Homo sapiens: one gene and its partners. The protein of the gene in region 2 interacts with the protein of the main gene of each other region in a pairwise test. Each region holds a gene or a part of one and is shown on either strand. Other genes may lie near its edges.

Evidence for each region.
Region 1: the proteins of HSF2 (region 2) and CFAP418 interact in a two-hybrid assay, tested with the Homo sapiens proteins (one study listed by IntAct).
Region 3: the proteins of HSF2 (region 2) and DERA interact in binary tests that used the Homo sapiens proteins (3 or more experiments, as listed by UniProt).

The regions. Positions count from the first base shown.
Region 1 is NC_000008.11:95,258,563-95,266,463, forward strand, and holds part of CFAP418 (cilia- and flagella-associated protein 418), read right to left. Parts: intron 5,213-7,901; coding exon 5,125-5,212; intron 1,971-5,124; coding exon 1,906-1,970; intron 1,344-1,905; coding exon 1,278-1,343; intron 1-1,277. UniProt on the Homo sapiens protein: May be involved in photoreceptor outer segment disk morphogenesis.
Region 2 is NC_000006.12:122,416,278-122,424,178, reverse strand, and holds part of HSF2 (heat shock factor protein 2), read right to left. Parts: coding exon 7,883-7,901; intron 5,012-7,882; coding exon 4,950-5,011; intron 4,045-4,949; coding exon 3,957-4,044; coding exon of another isoform or gene 3,945-3,956; exon of another isoform or gene 3,769-3,944; intron 2,030-3,768; coding exon 1,881-2,029; intron 1,462-1,880; coding exon 1,222-1,461; intron 599-1,221; coding exon 493-598; intron 1-492. UniProt on the Homo sapiens protein: DNA-binding protein that specifically binds heat shock promoter elements (HSE) and activates transcription. In higher eukaryotes, HSF is unable to bind to the HSE unless the cells are heat shocked.
Region 3 is NC_000012.12:15,906,953-15,914,970, reverse strand, and holds the start of DERA (deoxyribose-phosphate aldolase), read right to left. Parts: upstream 3,640-8,018; 5' UTR 3,588-3,639; coding exon 3,557-3,587; exon of another isoform or gene 1-3,556. UniProt on the Homo sapiens protein: Catalyzes a reversible aldol reaction between acetaldehyde and D-glyceraldehyde 3-phosphate to generate 2-deoxy-D-ribose 5-phosphate. Participates in stress granule (SG) assembly.

The sequences.
Region 1 (7,901 bases), on a different chromosome or scaffold from region 2:
TTAATATTATTAAAGACATTTAAAAGTAAACTTAGTGTAGCCTAAGCTACAGTGTTTATAAAGTCTATACTAGTGTAATATCCTAGGCTTTCACAGTCACTCACCACTCATTCACTCACTCAGAGCAACTTCCAGTCCTGCAAGCTCTGTCCATGCTAAGTGCCCTATACAGCTGTACCATTTGAAAAATCTTTTACAATGTATTTTTGCTGTACCTTTTTAATATTTAGATACACAAATATTTACCATTGTGTTACCACTGCCTACTGTATTCAGTGCGGTTACATGCTACACAGGTTTATAGCCTAGTAGTATGTAGTAGGCTAGTATACCACCTAGCCTAGGTGTGGAGTAGGCTATATCATCTAGGTTTGTGTAAGTACACTCTATGATGTTTGTACATGAGGAAGTCATAATGACTTATGACTAATGACATATTTCTCAGAATGTATCCTTGTTGGTGACACTTGACTATACAACAGTTAGCCCTCCAGAAATGTGGTCAACATGCAATCATATAACTTAGGCCATTCTTTCTTAAAAAATTAACAGAAAATAAGTGTTTTAGAAATAATTAGATAAAAGTATTTTAATAAAGTAAGTTAGGTAAGTAGACCTCTGCCAAAAATAGAACCAAAAGCAGCAGGAGAGTAGGGTTTGCTTAAAGCCAAACTGTTTGCCCACATTATGAAAATGCCAATGGAATGTGCTAGGACTATGGGGCTAATATGGGTTTGGGGTAGGTGGCATCATGACTATAAGACTGCCCAGAAAGAGGTACTGAGTGAGAAAGTGGAGGCAGGAAGGGCAGGGAAGAGACAAAGAACATAAGGTTTTTGTTTTTGAAATATGTAAACATGTAAAATCAAGCAACTACGCTTGAGAATGTTTTGGGCAATGCAGACCTGTAGCTTTGCATGCTAATTGGCCAAGGCAGTGTGGGTAAGGCATCATGTATCTGCATGGCCACTTTGCTTCCACTGCCTGGAAGGAAGTTCACTCTCCTGTGTCCTGTGGAAACAAAGCTGGGACTGGAGTGATCCAGGCATTTCAAGTGGGGCTTAGAAAAGGGCATAAAATGAATAATATGTACCTAACATCACAGCTTTCAATAGCTATCTCCCAAGAATAAAAAACAAAGAATTCTTAGATTAGCTAATAAAAATACCTCTCCTTATAAAACAGATTGATGTGAAGATGATAACTACATTTTAACAATGGGGCATCCATTTGGAAAAAACCTAGTAAGAAAGTATAATACATTTCTGACAACCTACCTCCATGAAATATTTGTTCCAATCCCACATGGAATAGAGCTTCCACCAAGGTACACCGGACTGCAACTAGATGTGTTCAACAGATGCAAAAATATGAAGTTATAACAAAAAATAGGAGAAGTTAATTTGGCCATGTTAAAAAAATTTTTGGTTTTATTGACTTTATGTTCTTGTAATCAAATTGTCTATTTTCCCTAGCAAGCCAACCATTTCAAAGAAGAGATATTTATTGTAGGATCACTGCTTTATTGGATATAACCTGTACATTCAGGAACACTCAAGGAATTAAAATGAGTAAAAGAAAAATGTGTTTGCCAAATAATGTAAGGGACAAAGTAAATACTGAAGAATATAACAGAACATTAATTTTGAGAAACTGTTCACACTTTTTTTAAATGGCAGAAAATTATTTACAATAGCAATAATCCCCCATTTAATTTCCTTTACACAAAGGGGGTCACAGACCATAAGAACACTGAAGATATTGCTATTGGTCTTTCTCCTGAAGGCCAACCAATGCTTTGTTGTTCAATGTCACTGCTGTTTAAATGGTAACAAAATCTACTAGACTATGCTCATAGTGTTTGCTCAATAGTGTGTATAATTCACCAAAGCAATCTCAACTTACCTTTTACCAAGGCCTTCAATGGAAGCTCTGACAGATGTGTTACCTGAAGATTTAGATTTTAATTTCTGTTAAAAAAGCAAAACAATAAAAGGCCATGAGTAACTTAGAAAACTGTAACATGAAAACTAATATTCCTTATAACAAGAATATTTTCTAAATGACTTAAATACAAATTTTCATGGCATCATTTTTAAGTTTCTGAAATAAAAACAATGATCAAAACCTTTTAAAGGCAAAAGGGAAGTAGAACTCCCTAAGGAATGTGCAAATTACTCTACTAACTTTTAGGCTAGGAAACTGATATATTGCCATTATTAGCATGCTAAGATTTAGAGTCACTTTATAACTCTTCAGTTAATATTACAGTTCAATGATTTAATATGAAGGACCTGCTATTTAAAACTTCATTCTAGAAAAATTCAATTGAGGAGGAAAAAAACCTCAGACTCATTTTTAAAGGCTGTGAATGTGCGTCATATGAATTAAAATTAACCAAGCTCCTGTGTAACTTCAGGAATATTAATTTTGATCAAATGGAATGGCATCAACCAATAAATGTGCAAGGAAAATGTAGAACTACCTAGTCACAACCATACAGTAGTTCCTATATGGTTACATAGTATCATCATCATTAGCAAGCATTTATTAAGTGTTAACTGGTATATGGTACCAAACAACATAAACCAACCACACACTAGGACCACCGCCAAGGAGAGGAAGTGAGATGGAGAAAAGGCAATTTAAACTATGCAGAGACATGCCTTCATTTTACATAGTGGGTGAGGAAATTTAATAGAGGCGAAAATATTGTTTTACTATGTCTCTCAACTCTTATTTGATGTTAAGCAGAAATGGAAAAAATTTTGGTACATGTTTGAAAAATAATAATATGCACGAATCTTTCTGTTTGGGGAGCATGTTTCATGTGCCATCCAGACTCAGGCTTATGACTCTAAGCTGGCACACTCTGAGGTTTGTTGTTGGTTCCTGGGCTTTCTTGTGTGGGTCTGGGAACAGTTCAGAAATGCGACAGAATGGGAGAGCAGGAGGTGCGGTAAGGGAGTAGTATTGTCAGGGCATAATATAGCCTCTAATGACAACGTTGGCATAGACTATCTGTTTATCTATGTTTCTTTTGTTAATACATGTTTTTTTTTCCCAATAAATGTTTTACTTAGACCTGCTGTCTCCTTTGAAGGTTGGAAAACTGGACATAATACATAACTAAAAAAGGAAAAGATCATGATTAAAAATTTACTTCTTCATGATTATAAGAGCTACTTTTATTTCAAATTAGTATATCTTAAAGCCAAACCAGAGAAGTACTTATCTTCTTCTGAAACACCTTAACTGAAAAGATAGCGCCTCATATACAGATATGCACCCTATTGGTACTTAATAAACAATGAATTGCTCAGATGATTAATGAAGAGCAACAAAATGATGTAATTTTTTTCTACCATTAATTAGTACTACTAATTGGCATTACTATTCAGTGCTTATGCACTTACTCAGTATTTAGGAAGTATTCTATTTGCAGGGTACAGGTGACCCTTGAACAACATGCGTTTCAACTGCACAAGTCCACTTATATGTGGAATTTTTCCAACCAAACAAGGATCAAAAATACAGTATTTGTGGCATGCGAAACCCCACGTACAGAGGGCCAACTTTTCATAAGGTGGGTTCTGTAAGGCTGACTGTGGAACTTGAGTATGTATGGATTTTGGTATATGTGGGGGTCCTGGAACCAATCCCTTGAGTATACCAAGGAATGACTGTATTTAATATTGCTATTGTGTTTACATATTATTCAACTTGGCATGTGCTTATTAATTTACTTCAGGTGAATTGAAAAAGTTTAATTTTCTAAAATCTATACTAGTCACTTGATTTTTAGTCTGGGTGACAAAAATGTAAGTGGTCCCTATCCATATTCTTACCACAACCATTACCTAGGTATTTTCAGTCCACTGTTTTGCTTTTATCTTCCCTATCCTTTAAAAAACAAAACCCTGGTACTATAGTTATTTCTTAAATTTTTTTGTGATCTTTGTAAATTAGACTTCTATTTTTGTATCTTTCTTTTAAATCTAACAGATAATGCTTGACACACACCATACTGATAAAAATTAAAATACATAAATTCTCATATACTGCCCAGTATGAAAAATGTTAAGTGATAAAGTCACTTTGGAAAACAATTTGGCAATGGGTAGAAAAGTTGAAGATGAGCACACCTTATGACCTAGGAATTCCTCTTCTAGCTTTATACACCCTAGAGAAACTTCCGTATATGGGTAAAAGAAGCCATGTAAAGATATCTAATGAAGGCGTAATCACTGGTTTTCCCTGTGTACATGTCAAAATTTGTATGCCTTTTCTCCGATTAAAAAAAAGGTATCTGATGAAGCACTATTTGTAATAGCAAACAACTGAGCACAATCTAAATGTCCATCATCAGGGAAGTGGATAAACTGTGGCAGAGTTATACAATGGACTACTGTACACAGTTAGAATTGTTTATGGTTATGTACATATGTAATGAAAGTATAAATGTATGGATGGAAAGGATAAATGGTTATCTTTGGGAAGGAAGGCAATAGAATAGGATTTAGAGAGGTCTTAAACTATATCTTTAATTTGTACTTCTTTTTAAAAAAAAAGGTCCAGTAAAGCAAATGTGGCAAAACATTAATATATGTTTAATATGGGTGGCTGTCATGGTATGTTCAGTATATAGGTTGCTGTTATATTACTTTCTGAACTTTTTATGCAGCTAAAATAGACATACAAACATTTAAAAAACTGAAATATTAACAATTTAGTCATTGCTTCATGGGATAAGAGCAATGGCATTGCATGTGAGGTGCTAAGCACATTCCTACAATGAAAGCTGTTTGTTTTTGGCCTTTTAGAAAAGTGTCCTTAGATACTACAAATAAATACAAGTGACCAGCTTGATGTGTGAGTTGACTTCTATGCTAACAGCTTTTCTAATTTGTTATTCTTACTGAGAAATGCACAGGGAAACACATACTGAGAGTTTCTGATATTTTACTGCTTCTACTGCTCTTTAAGTGTAATAATTTCTTTAAGTAATTGTATTTCTCAGAATTCAAAAGATAATGGGTAGCTACTTGTGTCATCTTTAAGACTATTCTAAACATGTCTTGAAATAATGACAGAATTACTACATATTTATAACACTTGACTTACAGAGGGTTTTTTGTCCAAGTTGGGCTCTTCAAGTATTTCATTAATAAGACTGTCAAGATCATCTTCTTTTTTAAATGTTTCTGTTGATCTGAAAAGAAGACATACACAAAGAAAACTTACCTGAGGTTTATGAGCAGAGAAAGCTAGTATCAGAAGAGTTTTGCTTAAAGTCCATTATTAGAGCTGATAATAGAAAGATAAAAGTGATTTTAATTTTTTTCACTGTGGATATAGTCTAAGTTTGTTGAGACAAAGATATACTTTATCAGGTACAAATTCACATATGTTCTATACTATTACATACTTGATATTACATACTTCAGACATTTACAGCTATATACATTATATTCAAGAGGAAGCTGGGTATGTACTTATCTGAATTACATAAAGCATGTATTTAATACAAAATATGTGCAATAAGCAGAACCTGATATTATAAACAAAGATAATTTTAACGAGTCTTCCTGACTTTTCCCCTAAAGGTTGCATTGTAAGTCAACCATACCTCTTTACTAGAGGGGCCGAAGGTCATGTAATCAAATGACCACCTCCACCCCAAAAAAAGGTGCTATTTGTTAGACAGAATATCTCAACTACTCAACTACCTCTACCTTCTGCAGGCAAAGCCATCACTGGATTATTAATATAAACCACTACTGCATAGAACTTCTATTTAATAGCTGATGCTAAATAGCTAATAACTAAATAGTAAGTATTTACTGAATACTTACTATAACCCAGGCATTGTCCTTAGTCTTTACATGAGTATATCTTTATTTAACCCCAGTTTTATAGATGAAGAAAAGGCACTGAGAGATTCAGAAATCTGTTCAAGGTCATATAAGTAGTGGGAGAAAAGGCTTGGAATTGAATCTAGGGCAGTCCGTGCACTTAATACTATACAAGATTAACTTTCTTTAGCGTTTGTATGAAGTAGATGCTGTACATCAACTTTATAACTTCATTAAATTATTTGTTTTAGAAGACAAGTTTTTTAGTCAAACTCTCTAATTTCAGAAATGTATTTACTCTGACAATTTTTAACATAGGCCTTCTTCATTACATCTTGGAGTAAAATAATTTAACCTGATATAAGAAAAGCAAGAGACGGCTGCCTACTACCTAATGGTTGATTCTGTCTCCAGGCTTAGCCTCTTCAGTTGTACTGTAACTTTTACCCTTAATGTCTTTCACTGTATACTGGTTTCTTCCTTTGACTTAGAGGTATGCTCAAGGCTTGCTTCTTCAAAGAGACACTTCAAAAAACCCCTGTCTTGAAGCTGCCACCCTTTCTTACTCACTACTGAAGAATAGTCTATATCCACGATTTCTACTTCCTTACAAGTAGACTAGATTTAGAATCAGTTGGGTGCTAATCCTAGGCGGGGGTTTCTCAGCCTTGGAATTATGGACATTTTGGGTCAGATAATTCTCTGGGGTGTGTATGTGGGGGCAGGAGACTGTTGTATATTGCAGGACATTTTACAGCATCTACCCACTAGATGCTATTAAATAATAGCACACCCTTCCCCAGGTGCGACAATAAAAAATGTCTCCAGACATTGCCAAATGCCCCTTGGGTGGCAAAATCATCACCAGTCTAGAGATACCGACTTAGTTTAAATTATTTAATCTCTCTGAAACTCAAATATTTTATCTATAAAAATGATATCTAGATGACTATTTAAAATTTCTTTCAGGTATAATATTCTACTTCTGGCCTCTAATCCCTCAACTATAGTGAAACTCTTCTCTCGAAGGTTTCCACTGCCCAAATCACTACAATCTAATGGTGGTTCTCAGTTCCAATCCTCTTTAATCTTTCAGAAGCATCTGACACTGTTGGGTACCAATTCCTTATATTTCTTTTTCGATAAGAGGTTGCTAAGATGTCCTCTTAAAATTCTCTCCTTTGGCTTTCAGGACATACTTTCCGGGTTCTCCTCCCTCATGCAATTTCACAATTTCAAGAATCAGATACATCCAAACTCCACCAACCTAATCAGTACTGTTACAGATCCAAATTACCAGCTTACATAAGATTCTGGTCTGTTCTTAGATCACACAATTTCAAAATGCCTACACTTGCCTATGCTTTGCTATAGTAATAACAATAAAGTCAACATTTCATTGAGAACTCATAATTTTAAAGGACTGTATAAGACTCTTTTTGGTCTTTTGATGTGACAATAATCTCAATCAAATGTTAATAAGCTTTTACTGGTTCCCTTTCTGACTCTGTTTCTGACATTCTAATCTTTTAAAGATATAGTTTCTGCTGAAAATAAAACATATATTTAAGATAAAATATAAACACTTAAACCTATAATTAAATGTGAGAGGTATTATATAGAAAGCTTAAATCTAGATCTACTATGTCCTTGTGATTTAGCAATATGACTTTAGGCAAGTAACTAAGCATTGATTTGGTCAATGAAATGGGGATAACAGTATTCACGCATGGGATTGTGAAGATTAAATGAAATAACATATACAAAGCACTTAGCATACAGAAAGAGCTCAATAAATGTTGGCTGTTATTATAGTTATCATCTAGAAAGCTATATTATCTTTAAATATTCCCATCTGTATCATCCTGAACCACTTTATTCCTATTGCAGTTCTTCTCAACCCACATCAGTCTTTTTTAATTTTTTTACTAATCACATATTTCTTTTTATCATTTTGAACACTTCAACAAATTGCATGTTTTGACCTCTTACATTAGCAGTTGTTCCTGGTATCCAGATGTAGCATGGTCATTTATAGTATTATTT
Region 2 (7,901 bases):
GTGGGGACTGGAGCAGGGGAACCTTGTAACTCAAAATATAAAAATGTAAAAAATAAGGCAAATATATTAAAACATATTTGAGTAAAAAATGTTAATCCCCAAAGTATCAAAAGGTGTCTCCATGCTATTTCCTAGCTAAGTACCTCTATTACTAATTTCCACAAATTTCTATTTACTGACAATTCATTCTAGAGCAAAACAGAAAAGAGCAACAAGTCCAGACAAGACATGAACTTAACAGTACTGCTGAAAAGATCTGATATGTTCTCACAGGGAAATTAGTTCAATTGCTACTCCAAGGCAGGTGGTAATCATACTCCTTCAATGTCCCAAACCTATTTTTTCATTCTTTCTGATAAACAAAATTATTAATTTAAAAAAGAAATGCAAAAACAACCTGTAGAATACAAAACAAAATGACGTACTGGTTTTTAAATAATATACATAAACACACAAACTACCAGTATAGCAAAGATTACCCAAAGTACCTACATCAACCAGGAGATCTGGGTCTATGCTAAATTGTCTTCCTGATAGCATGGCCTGGAAGTCCTCTAAACTGCAGTCAATACTGTCAAGATAATCCAACAGCTCAACCCTAAGGAAAAAAAAATTTTTTTAATCAAATATTAGATATCCTTGTTTTTATGTTTAAAAATCACCATTACAACTTGGCTAGGCAAGATATTTCTAGCAGCTGCTGCATCCTTACCGGTTCTTAATCTTAAGAGATCTTATTCTAGAGTAGGAATTCTTGAAAATCTGGTTAACTGAAAATTCATAGCCTTTACAGAAAACTTTAGTATTTACAGAAAAACACACCCTGCAGAACAGTCTGATTTACCTTTTTCCTCTATACTATATAAAATGTTTAATCTCATTACTGATTATTACTATTAAGTTTTCTTTGTTATAAGTACCTTACTAGAAATTACATTATTCTGTAGTTTGGATACACAAATATATATAATCACAAACACTGTATGTACACTCAAAGGAAGTATATCATCAAAGGAATCTGAGAAACTACCAGGAAAATACCAAGACTATTCTTGGGATGATTAAATCCCATTCATTACAGAACTCAACACTGACCAAAACAGAGAAAGGTGGACTATGTGGGTTCATCATCTGAAAGGAAGATTACTCAAAGAGAAACAGAACATGTGAAGTGAACAAAGAAAGCAAATAATTTTAGACAACATCTAGATAAGCACTCACTTTCCCAAAAGATTGATGTTATCATTCAAAATGGAATCCATCATGGTCACTGGATCTTCTGAGGTCAGACTGGATGAGCCATTTAGCTGGACAGCACTAGACATGAGAGGGCTGCTGCCATCACTGCCTGAACTTAGGGATTCTCTGGCTGGTTCATTCTGCTCTCCACTCTGAATGACAGGTGCATACTCATCTTCATTGTCATCTTCAACGATGACAATATCAGGGTACTGGCTACAGCTAAATCAGCAATAAAAGAAGGAACCTATTACATTTTCAAATTTAATAAGTTCATACTATCCATTCATTCTAAATGGAAACTCTCTCCCCATACCACATACTGAAAGGCTTAAATTTCTTGAGCGAGCAGCTTAATCACAATATTGGTACTTCATAGTATAGAAGACCATAAAGATTGAATGAGAAGTGCTTAACTCCAAAATAAAAATTAAAAATCAATTAGTTTTCAGTATACCTCCTTTGAGAGGAAGAGGAGGTGAGGTTTTATCTGGTTGAATAATTTAGCTTAATTATCAAGTTTAATAATCCAAATGTGAGAAAGATTATTATTTTTCAAAGAACAAAGTAGTTTTGAATTTTACTCTGTAATAAGAAAAGTAATCAATATTTTCATACATTTTATCTCACAAACTCCTTACTTGGAGGGATCAGATATAACATCCTCATTAGTTTCTGGAATAACTGGGATATTTTCTTCATCTGCATTATCATCAGTAACATCATAAATAATGATGTCATCTGAAATCCTCTCCCTTGGCTTTAAACCTTCAGTCCTACTGTGTGGAACCTAAAAATTCAGAGAGAAAAATATATCTAAAAATCAAAATCATTGACTACCAAACAAGATATCATCTACAAAATAACTAGGCAACTACTATTTACTGAATCTCGGGGTATGCAAAACAGGTGTGTTCTCTGCTCTTACGGAACTTACATAATAATTGGTACTAGCAGCACCAATTCACAGAGGTATGAGGTATATTAACTGCATTCTACACTTTACTACTTCTTTTACTGTAAGGGACCCTGAAGATGACACCCCTAAAAATGTTTCTATGGAAAGATCTTCAAATTTTAAAGTATTTTTTATGCCTAAAGAGTAAAAAAGTCTTAGGACTTCACTAGAAACTTCAAGCACGACCAGACAGCCACCATGCTGATAGGGATATTGTTTCAGCTCAAGATGCTCTGTTTTGAAATGTGTTTTATTCTTATTCATTAAATACCTTCACTAAGAGAAAAAAACGCACTTCACCTCTCTCAGTTACATGTTAGCTTGGCTTTTTAGCAATGATTTTTTTTTAAACTTAAGCTACAGATATATTCAGGCTACAGCTGTATTAATCAAACTAAGTTCAATCCTGTAAAGCAAACTAAAGTCATTATTAAAATGCAAAAAACTATAAATTCCAATACTAGATAATAAAGAGGCAAAGGATGTGAAGTACTTTAAAATATATAAACCCAGTTAAAAATATAAAAATCTTCATCCACTTACATGAGCCTTCAATCCTAAAAACAAAATAGGTATGCTTGATTATTTTCTAACAGTAGAGGGAAAAGAAATCAGATGTGAGGTTAAGTTTGATTGTCCAAGAACAAAAATCTTATTACTTTAATAATAAATCTAAAGAACTATTTTGAATTCTGAAGTTTGAAAGTAGTAACAAAAAGATAATAAAAAAGATCTGGACTTTGGACTGGACTAATTTGCCACTGGATAGAAATCTGACAAATTATCCAGAAAGCCTGTGACAAAATGAAGGTAAAAATTTAAATTGCTGGAGTAAAAAGCATTCTAGTTGGTGAACATTAATAAAAAAAAGTTGAAAATAGAATAACCAATGTAAGAATATATAATCACATTAAATTATAATAATTACATTTTCAAAATATTCAATTATTATATAATATTGAAATGAGTAAGCCAGGTGCAGTGGCTCATGCCTGTAATCCCAAAACTTTGGGAGGCTGAGGCAGGCAGATGGCTTGAGTCTGGGAGTTCGAGACCAGCAAAGGTGACATGATGAAAATCCATCACTACAAAATATACAAAAATTATCCAAGTGTGGTGGCACACACCTATAGTCCCAGCTACTCAGGAGACTGAGGCAGGAGAATTGCCTGGGCCCAGGAGGTGGAGGCTGCAGTGAGCCAAGATCATACCACTGCACTCCAGGCTGGGTGACAGAGTGAAATCCCATCTCAAAAAAAAAAAAAAAAAAAAAAAAAAAAAGAAATGAATAAACTAAATCGCTATGTTTAATAAATCTCAAAAGCAACATCAAGTTAAAAAAAAGCCACACTATAAAATGATATGCACAAAATGATATTATTTATATGAAGTTTAGATATATGCAAAATAATACCAAGTACTGCTCCTGGATTCACATATACAAAATGGCCATGAGAATGATAGATACTAATTCAAGATAGTGATTACCTCTAGGGTAAGCGAGGAAGAGTAAAGAGGGGAGACAAGAGACGGGGAGAGAGAAAAACTTAGAAACAGGCAACTGGAACAACTAGATTTGTGATGATTTATTTCTTACAATAATCTAAAGCAAATAATAAAAAATGTCACAATTTAACAAAGCTGTGGGATGAACACTTGAATTGTTATTCACCACACTTCTTTGAATGCATGAAACACTGCCATAATAAAATTTAGTCTGAGACAATAAATATAAAATAGACCCTAACTAAAAAATTACTTTATGATGATGATTATCAGTTGGTTCTTTGACTATGTGCTGAAACAGGTTCTTCTTTTGGGCTCCATTAGTGTTTAGAAGTAGAGGCCTGAAAACCAGAAGAATATGCAGTTCAGTGAAGCAAACATACAATGAATTTAAACTCCCTCTATTAACTTACCCAAACACACACACATGCACACTCACTTAATAATGAATAAAAAATTTCAGTAACAATAAATAAACTTAAAAATGATTACATCTTAGGAACAGAAACTGCTGGATGAGAATATCTAGGACTTTCAGTTCTCCACTTTTCTACACTCTTTTTGTTATAATAAGCTATTCTCTCCAGTTATACTTCATTGCTTACCGAACCACACAACTCTATGAACTGTATTTATATAGAAAAAAATAGATAATATCATAAGAACTAATTAGTGGAAGTAGTTAAGGCCATAAAGCTCTGATCATAATCAAGTTTTTCCCAAATCTTAGTGTTACAGATCATTTTTTCCTTCCAACTATTCCTTTTGTCCATTATTCTTCTAATGTTTTAGCTGTGACAATAGTAGCTACTGACATTTACAGGTATCACAACCCATGGCTGAGATACAGATTTAAAAAGACTATGAGTGGCTTAAACTAAGAGAGGTCAAGTAAAACAAATTTTCATTTTTTTTTTAACATATGGCCTCTTTTTAAAAATTTCCTTCACTCAGGCCTTCTAATGCTACTTTAATAATGTGAATGAAAAGTGAATATTTTGTATTAACTGTATGTATGTCTATAAAGTGACCATTTAGGCTACCCTTATCTCTCACAAACATCAGCAGAATGATAAAACTAAAAAATAATACTACTCTAGAGATTTTAAGAGTATAATTTAACAAAGGAGAATTGTTCTTTTTGGACAACAAGCACATACTCAGCAAGTGTAGGCTACTCATGGTTAAACACTAAAAAGTGTGACTGCCTATATACAGGACATAATACTTTATCATAAAAACTTACCTTTTACGTTTTAAACTCACAAGTTGGTTATTTTGAACCAATGTAACAATAAACTGGACAATCTGAAAAAAATATAAACAAAAATTATTTCATTATACTGTTAATTCTTTTGTCTCTATTACCAAGTCTTATAAAACAAATTCATATAATAATTTGTCCTCTAAGTCTCATAATTTCTCACATATTAACACTTGAAATCCAGACGCACCGTAGAACCACCGTCTAAAGAAACATACCAGCTTCCAGGCAGTTTATTTGTTTTGGTGATAAGTACCAAACTTGCCTGGCTATAGATCCCAACTTTTTTACTTCAAGTACTTTGAAGATTACACTACGGTGCAAAAGAGAAAACTGGTGTTTGATAGGCAACATTTTTCTTATACCAGGTAACAGAGGCAAAATAAACCGTCAGTTCCTTCAGAATAATCATGAAATTTTCGAGTTAGAAAAAGGTGATGGGCCAGGCGTGGTGGCTCATGCCTGTAATCCCAACACTTTGGGAAGCCTAGGTAGGAGGATTGCTTCAGCCCAGGAGTCGGAGACCAGCCTGGGCAACATCGTGATGCTCCATTTCTAAACAAACAAACTCTGCTTGCAACCAAAGAAAAAAAAGAAAAAGATAAAAGTTTATTGTCTGATTCTATAAAGATTAATGTTGAGACCTATCTGTCAAAACTTCCTACTGACAAGGGAAGCTAATCTTTAATATTTAATTAAATTTAGAGAGAAAATTGTGAAGACACACAAACAAGCTTTCATATCTTATAGTAGTGTTTCTTAAAGTGTGGCCCATAATACCAGGAACACTAGCTTAGGAACTTTGGATATGTTAAATTCTCAATCCTACTACAGAACTGCTGAATCTGAAATTCGGATCATGGGATCCAGTATGTTTAGAAAACCCTTTAGTGTAGACTGGATACTGATGTGAGTATAAGAACTACTGGCTTAGAGTATGTCTTGAAATTACATTGCCAACTTCCTAAAGGTGCTATAAAAGGTGAGGATCATATGGTAAACTATAAAAAGTAGTATATCACTGAGAAGCTATGAATAAAAGCCAAAATTGATTGGAGCACTATTTAGACTCTGTGCAGAAAGTGTGCTTATAAGCTTTGTGAAGTTACATGATTAAATAGAGTATTATCAATTAAAAATATCTATTGTACAGGTTCTAACAGTGAGCATTTCCTTACAAAAAAGGCTACTAAATGGTCTGCCTTATAATCAATATCAATTTTTCAATGGAAAAAAATATAGACATTTTAACTGAAGAGGTTCATAGTATTAGAGTCTATGAAAAGGAGGGTAGACACTAAATTGCTTATTCAAGAGAAAATGTTAACAGCTAGTGAAAAGACAATATGTAAGCTTAAAGATATCTATGATACAATTCGACTTCAGTTTTTTTAATTAATAAATGTTATGGGAATATTCTAAAAACTTCAGGTTGAATTTATAAGAACATCAATCACTGGCTAAATTAAATTTATTCTACATCTCAGTTCTCTGTTGACACTTCTGGATCACATTACACAGGGATTTTTATCTGAAGAAGATAAGGCGTCTAACACTTACAGCATGTAACTTCTGTACCTGTTAAGTCCTATAACTGGACCATCACACATATTATTCTCAATTAATCCATGGCTGAGAGTAAATTCCAGGAGCAGAGTAAAAATTATTGGTTGTCGTCATGCATTATATAAACACCACTCACCAAAGCACAGAGATTCAAACTCAAATTTTAGCAGACAGAATGTTAGCATTCATGAAAAACTGAAATGTCACATAGCTATTTTATCAACTATTCTTGCTTTCAGGAAAAAAAAAATCTACACATTATAGAGTGTTGTAAGCTAATATATTACCAAAACACTGTTTCTGAAAAGTATTAACAGACTGTTTCCATAAAGTACAGGTTAAGGTACATCTATTGTTTTAAGTCAACTATTCTTAACCAGGCTGCACATTAGAGTTGCCTATGAAAGTTTTAAAAATACATGTACTTGGACTAAACACTTAGAACTGAATTCTACTACATTCAACCTTCACTTGCACACTTTAAAAAAAAAAAAAAACACAGTAAATCTATGTTGACTAGGCTACAGGCTGCAACTGCTACTCATCTCTGCTTTAAAGCCTTCTCCATTAGACCCTGATCCTGTCAGTCACAACCCTATTTTTAGTTCAAGGGCCTTCTAAGCAGGAGCAATCAGAAGCTCCCCCTCAAAAAACCTGTTGCTTAAACTCAGAGTCTAGTTTACTCATGAGCAAAAAATAGCTGCCTTAATTACTATGTTTCATCTCTTATTAGCAAATGAAAGCTGATATGCAAAGATTAAATCACAAGGACACAATGAAACGGAGGGATTCCAACTCCTCTATTAAATTTTCAGCTCAGATACTAAAATCTAAAATTCATTTTACAACACTATGTTAACTGCTTTTCTCCACAGACTAATAACAGCATACATTGAGAAATCATTTTCTGAACTCATAATTTGGTCAACTGATTTGAAAATATTTGTCATTTATCTTCTGAGACCTTAACTATGCCTTTTATAATAAAAACCAACAAAAAAAACCAGTAAGGCTATGTTTTCTAATTTTAAAAGAAATTGGTAGTGTATTCATTATGCTCATAAAAATAAAGTATTTCAAAATTGTTATATTAGGCAAAAGATCATTTACTAAAAGCTACTGAGACATTATCTGCGAGTATGGAATAACCATCTTTAGCTAGTGAGAAATTTTTTATTAAAAATGTGTAACACTTGGCTTAATTTCATTTCATTTTTTACTTCTATCTGTGCATCCAATATGTAAGAAACTAAGATCAATCACAGACACTCAATAAAGACCTTTTTGGGTCACAAACAGTACTCATTAAACAAATGCAAATTATGGTCCTGGGGAAAAGAGCTTCTTACCTTTCGAATAACTTGTTGC
Region 3 (8,018 bases), on a different chromosome or scaffold from region 2:
ACCCGTCTCTACTAAAAATATAAAAATATTAGCCGGGCTTGGTGGCAGGCACCTGTAATCTCAGCTACTCGGGAGGCTGAGGCAGGAGGATTGCTTGAACCTGGGAGACGGAGGTTGCAGTGAGCCAAGATCACACCACCGCACTCCAGCCTGGGCAACAGAGGGAGACTCTGTCTCGAAAAAAAATACAAAATCCCATCATGGTTATTTTTCAGATATCTTTGAAATGTTGCTTTTTGAACAGAAGAGTTTTCAGACACACAGAGACAGAGCAGGGAGATCCTTAGAAGTCATCTAATAACACCCGCATTCTCCAGACGCCTCCAAAGATAACATTTGCAAGGAAGTTACACTATCTACATCCTTTATAGGCTTCTTGAGATAGCTCTGAAGACGGATGTAACAAAACTGAATCTTAATAATACTTACAAAGAGGAAGAAGGTGCCAAGCTTCACAGCATCTGTCCATGCAACCATACACGGGGACCAGGTAGATTCCCCAGTTCCCCCAAGTAAGAAGCAGCTCTCAATTCATTCCTTCATTCAACAGACTTTTTCTTTTTTTTTTTTTTTTTTTATCTTTTTTGAGACACAGTCTGTCTCCAGTCTGTTGCCCAATGGAGTGCAGTGGCACAATTCCAGCTCACTGCAACCTCCACTCTCTGGGTTCAAGCGATTCTCGTACCTCAGCTTCCCAAGTAGCTGGGACTACAGGCATGCGCCACTATGCCCAGCTAATTTTTGTATTTTTAGTAGAGATAGGGTTTTGCCATGTTGGCCAGGCTGGTCTCCAACTTCTGATCTCAAGTGATCCGGCTGCCTTGAGCCTCCCAAAGTGCCAGGACTATAGGCATGAGCCACCATGCCCAGCCTCAAGACATTTTTGAGGGCCTTCTGTGTACCAAACACTATTCTAGGTACTTGGGACACATCAGTGAACAAAAGAAAGATCACTACCCACGTGACACCTGCATTTTAGGCAATAGTTAAGTGGCATCTAATAAAATAGAAGAATATCTGTACATTTTAATAGACTATATAGGGCATAATAGTCTAGGTACAAAACTTGATAGTACCTTGGAGATCATTAAGCCATTGGTTCTCAAACTTGGGTATGCTTCAGTACTACCCACAGGATTTGTTAAAACTCAGAATGCTGGGCCCCATCCTCTAATATGAAAGCTAGAGGGTACATTCCCTATTTGGAAAACATCTTTCATACATCCAAATGCCAATGTTTTCCTTAAAGACTTTTTAATCATGAGGGTCAGGTTTAGTCTCAAAGGAACTCAATGTTTTTTTAAGTCCATGAACTAGAAGTACATACACCAAATCATAAATAACAGTGATTGGACTAGTAATAATATTACAACATTTTTGTGCTAACTGTATTTTCTAGAATTTTTACAATAACCATGAATTCCTTTTGTAATAAGAAAAGGGAAGCAAAAATGTTAATTTATTTTAGAAATTAGTTACGATGTTTATTAAAAAGACTTTCAATTAGAAAACTATTTTAAAAATCATCAGTTAATATACTGCATAAATTAATACTGAAAGATTTTTTTCCCTAGTACCTAATTCAAATAACTTATTTTAGCATTTCAGTTTAAACCTGTTTGGATTAAGGATTAATACCCGTGAAGGAAAAAAATCTGATTTTAACAAATAAGATAATAAATACAAAGCTATGATCATTTCGATAGCTGCATAAAAACCACATTTACTATTGTTCTACCTGGCAATTATTTATGTCTATTACTTTTCAACAAATGAATGGAAGTGATTGATTCTAATTACTGCAAATAAATAAATTTAAAAATGGTTCAATTATGTTTTTTGAAAGAAAAATTTAAAATGTCTAAGTTTTGGGAAATTTAGGGCACATCCTTGATGTATGCATAGTCACATGGTCATATTCCTGGGAATACCCAGGTAAGACACCACCCCAAACCTGCCCCATATCCACCACCTTCAAGGATATTCCAATCTAAGAAATAATGCCGTTATTACTAAAGACCACGTTCCAGAGATAGGACTAGAGTTTAAAACATAATCAGCTAGAGGACAGTGACTAAAACAAAATCAACCAGGTTAGTAAATCAACTGTCTTTAAAATGATAGATTTACTCTCTTACCATTCGACAAAAAATCCAGAACACCTCTTGGAAGTGCAGACTGTTTAAGTACCAGTCACTTTTAAGGAGGGCGAAAAGGACCTACCTGTATGTGTTACATATAATTTACAGCCAATTTTCTCAAAATTAGCCCCTAAAACCATAACTCCATATACTAATACTATCTATACTGAAGACTTACTAGGTGTCCACAATATACCAAACTACTTTACATGTATCCTATTTAATCTCCTAACGGCCTTATAAGGTAACTACCACTAAAATAACCATTTTACAGATGAAGAAACTTAAGCGCAAAGTTATTAATTTGTCCGAAGTCACACAGGTAAGAAGTTAAAGATCCTGGATACACAGATATCCAAGCTATAATACTTAAACGAGACGCTTAAACCTTCTCTTGATCATGGTTTTGCTGTTTGAATTATAAATTTTTCACATGTTAAGAAATCTGAAGAAAAATTCTCTTCTGCCTTGGGATCCTGTTGATCTGTGACCTTATCCCCAACCCTGTGCTCTCTGAAACATGTGCTGTGTCCACTCAGGGTTAAATGGATTAAGGGCGGTGCAAGATGTGCTTTGTTAAACAGATGCTTGAAGGCAGCATGCTCGTTAAGAGTCATCACCACTCCCTAATCTTAAGTACCCAGGGACACAAACACTGCGGAAGGCCGCAGGGTCCTCTGCCTAGGAAAACCAGAGACCTTTGTTCACTTGTTTATCAGCTGACCTTCCCTCCACTACTGTCCTATGACCCTGCCAAATCCCCCTCTGCGAGAAACACCCAAGAATGATCAATAAAAAAAAAAAAAAAAGAAATCTGAACTAAGGTTTCTTGCCAGTATTTGAACAATATAAAAAAAGATGAAAACTGGGAAATAATACAGGTACTTTAACAAATCTTTGTAACTCTAAAATCCCATGAATCTGCAGTGTTACATTTTGAGCACAGACGGCTGACAACTTTTCCACGAGCACGGCCACTTCAAGGTTACGGTTAAAATTATCTACGGAAATACTGCATTAAATTACACAAGTATTCTATTAAAAGGAGGAGAAAGAAGGTTTTTATCTGTTTTTACCTGCTTGGGGGTTGTTTGTTTTGGGTTTTGTTTTTTGGGTTGTTGGGTTTTCCAACCAGCGAGCTAGAGTGAACGAAAAGGCAGGAAGATAATAATCTAACCCTTTCCTACTCCTTCCGCATACAAGAGTAAAAGCTTAGGTGCAAAGACAAGCGGCGCGAACGTGCCGGGTTCGGCCTTTACTTGGGGTGAGGGCTGACCAGACGCCACTGCTTCCCGCCCCAGCGAAAACCCCTCGGGGACCCACAGCCAGGGCACTGGGCGGCAGCAGGCCCCGCGCTAGTCCCGGCGGCGCTGAACGCGAGGGAGAGGGGATGGGGAGCCCCGCGGGCCCCTTACCGAGCTCGGTGCCCCGATTGTGCGCGGACATGGCGCGGGCAGCTCCGGAGCTGCCGGCTGGTAGGCGCCCGCCTCTGCGCCGCGCCCGGCCCTTCCTCCTTCCCGCCAGCTGGAGCGCTCGCCCCGCCCCTGCCCGCTCCCGGGGCGGAGTCGCGGGCCCGGGCTACGAGGTCTGTACCCTAGGAATATTGCTCCGCAAGGAAATCTCGCTGCTCCCCTCCCCCGTCTTCTCCACGAGGTACCGAACCGGAGCGCTAAGTAGCTCCCGGAAATAATGCTACCAACACCCTTTAAAAAATACTGAAGTTGCCAATTGCACGTAATAAAAATATTCCTAGAAACTTTTAACTGTAAGATTATATAACAAGAAGGAAGAAGATCCAAGTGCAGAGCTCTGCAACTTAAGGTCTGAAATGTCAGCAGGGATCCCATATCCTTGTTAGGGAAACCAAGGTGCAATCAAGGGCCCCGGGGCACACTGACTTTTCTAATCTACACATCATGAAAAGAAGCAGCTATGTGGCCTGAAGAAGGCAAGGGCTTAGGAGTCAGAAGACCTGGTTTCTTAGCCAAGCTCGGGCAATAATTAAATGTGTGACCCTGGGCAAATTAACTGCTTTTCCGAGCTTCATTTTTCTCATCTGTAAAAGAAGACCTTGACAATTTCTTGGTTCTTCAAAATACTATGATTCTATAAAGGTAAAATGCTTCAGCCTGATTTCTCTGTGACCAAGAGGTTAAAATCGTCGAGTCACTCCACAATCTCAATATAGTTAACTTATCTGTACTCACGTTTAGAGGCACCTCTGCTATGAAAACAGTACAGTTAGTTATGATTTGTCTACCATGAGCCAGTTATTGTGCTAGGTGCTTTCATACATCATATATAGATGTATGATAGCATTTGAGTCTCTGAACAATCCTGCCAATAATGTATTTTATCTCCATTGCTGTAACTTTAGACATCAAAGTTCTGAATAGAAAGGCATCCTGGTATAGGGGAAATACAGTGAGCTCAAAATGAGCTGAACCCATTAATATACCAGCTCTTCCATTTAATAAATGTAACTTGGCAGTTCTGGAAATAATAGTCTGTCTACTTACCTGTAAAGTGGAGATGATCAAAATATGTTCACCTTGCAAAGCTGTTGAATGTATGCAAGGCACCTAGTACATAACATGGCATACAGTAGATACTTAAAAAATGGAAGCTGTTAATGTTATTGTCAAGTTCACACAGTAATTACTGAGCTGTTTTAAATAGGAATAGTAATATTTGTATACTCCTCTACATTGAGCTTTCAGCCTTGTCCACACACAGCCACTGTTGAATGTTTCGGATGTGTGTAGATCTTACTCATACATACTATAGCACTTTTCTTTTTTATATTAACCTTGAAAAAGAGAAAAGCAGGCCCTGAAAGCCTGGAGCTGGCCTGAAACTCACAACTGGACCATGGTTTTCCCTGGTTAAACGTATACAATTTCACAGCACAGCATCAGCCAAGGCCATTGTGACCACAATGAATCAACAAAAACATAATCATAATCATGTCTGATAATAGAAAACCATGAATATTGTTCAAATAGCCCCTATCCTAGCTATTATGACTTCTTTACCAATCAGTTCTAGCTTCACTCCATTCCTATGTTTTAGATAAGAATTAAGATGCACTACTATCACCAGTTCCTACCATCATCCAGTCCAGATCCTTCCTTGAACTTTCCCCAAATCACCTACGACAGGCCCAAATCCTATGTAGTTTCTAACATCCTCTTACTGAGACACCTCACATTAGGTGCCCATGGCAAGCATTCTCCCTTGTTACAATGTCAATAAACACAACTTTGTCCACTTGTAGGTGTGTTACTGGTGGTCTCTGGCTGGAGATCATTCACATCTCTAGAAGATACAAAGGCAATACATGAAATTCTATTTTTAGAAGTAAACACAACTCCAAACCAGATTCCATACCATTCATTACATAAATGTTTGTTTGTTTGTTTTTAAATTGTGATATCCTAAATTAGTTGAAAAATCAGAATTAGGGCAGCCTCTTAAAGCAATGTTTTAGCAATGTATCAGTCAAGAATTTCTCAAGGACTTTTTCTAAAATGGACCTGTTGAATGTATTAATCTCAAATTAATCTCTGCAGTTTAAAAGTATGTTAATTTGGCAACATTAGGAGAGACAGCAGGGATAGTATGCAAAAAATGAGTTTCTTTCACAGAGAAATGTTCCTATATTTCATTTTGTGAAGATTCCTTTTACATTTATTGCCTTATGAAACTTCTGAAGTATCCCTAAGGCAAGTCCCCTCAAAGAAAGAGCTATAGACCACTACATGGGAATCACCCAAGAGCTTTTTCTAAAGCAGTTCTGGGCTTCCTCACAGCCCTACTCAATCAGAGTATCTAGGACCCTGGAATCTGTAATTTTAATATTTCTTCAAACAATGTTTATGCAAACTAAACGTAAAGAACCACCAATGAGAAGCAGAGGAAAATAAACTATGCATGCCAATCTGGAGCCATAGCCCAAACTGACTCTTACAAGAGTAAAATTGCTTTTAAAGTATTACATGTTGTATTTTTTAAGCCATGTAAATTTTGCATGCTATTCCTATTCATTGATGTTTTTCAATGTAAATTTTAAACTGCCAAATAAATTACCTAATTATCCTCCCACCCTCACTCCTCCTTTAATTAAAATTAAAGCTCTAGGAATATGTAATATTTATCTTGAAGCTTCTAAGAACCTACCAGTCCTGGGAGATAGGAGTAAAACAAATTTTAAGGTCCAAAGGGCATAGATCATTTGTGTTTGGTTCATCATATGTAGGATCTAGTACAGTAGTTGGCAATTAGTAGACTATAAATATTTGTTAGATGAATGAGTGTATATTGCTGTCTTTGCTACTTTTCTTATACTGCCTACTGTTTTATCCAGTCAAATTTCATTTGATATAGTCTCTACTCCTATGATTTCTAAGAGCAATTATTCACAAGTTCATTAGGTAAATAACCACTTAGACTACAAACTGTCAGCCAGCATTTCTAGGTCAGATGGAGAAAAGTGTAGGAGCAGGGAGGACTATGAAAAATTGTGAATATTAGAGTCAAAATATTTTAGAACTGGAGGGAGACTAATAGAACATCCAATTCCTAGTTCATGGTAAAATAAAAAAAAAATAAGAATTATACTGAGTGTTTTATGAAGCTAAATTTATTCAATTTAAAGAACACTCCTTCATTCTGAGACTACGTTGTTCACTACCAATTTGAATTTTAAAATGTCGTTTTATAAAGATCGTGGCGTTAGATAATTATTTTTTCTTTTTTAATAGCCTCAGTTGGCTAGAAGCCGACCATTCCATCTCCTCTCCCCCATTTTGAAGTCTATTGGCCACAGAATCCTAAAGCTTGGGAATCACTGATACAATATATAATACTCGCTAATATTAAGTGCTTCCTGTGAATTAAGTCCTTTCCATAAAGTATTTGGTATTTCATATTTATGAGATTTTTCCTGAAAAAAATCTGTGAGAACTCTTTTCTCCCTGTACAGATAAACTGAGGCTAAGAGAGATTTGCCTGTAAGTGCTAGACGATTGCTTAAAACCTGGCAATATATAATCATATAACAATATATAACCTTAGACTACACACTATTCCCTACTATCTCTTGGAAGCTAAACTTATTAGACAAACCATTAAACCTCTCTGAAATTCAGGTTTTCCATATATGCAACGGAGACAATTACCTATCTCATTGGATTACTGGGAGAGATTAAAAAGTGACACACGTGTTAACATTAAAACCTAACGTAAGGCACTTATATCATTTCCATACTCGTCCTTAAACTAAAATCAGTTACCTTCCACTTGACCATGTTCTATTCTCTCATTAAAGTGATTCAATCTATAAAGTATTATTATTGTTCATTAGCTATCATTTAGACGCATACTTGGGCCTTGTTTCCAAAGGTAAATTTGTTAGATGCCTCCGAGAACTCTACTGATCTAGTCACCTCAGTCTAAGTGACACTATAGCACACTTGCAATTAAGCATTTCTATATTAAATAGATAACCAATGAAAAGCTAGGCCCCCTCTTATCTGAGAATGTTCTTGCTTTAACAATGTTTTCATGGGTAACCCCCCAGTGTAGCAGACAGACATGCACAGTAACATATAGTAACCTAATAAGAACCTCTTTTTAAGTTGTTAATCCCCTAGGTGTAAAGCATAAGCAAGGTAGCTAGTTGAGAAATATTTTCCATTGGTCTGCTTTTTCAATGCATCTTGTTGTTGCTCCCTTCTGAAAAATTGCATCCATTTTTCCCCAACCTTGGTCTCAAAGAAAAGGCAGCTAAATACTTCCATGGAATTTGAGCAACTACTAAAAAATGTAATCTATAATTTGTTATAAATTATGGTGCATCTATATGCTATTTGGTGC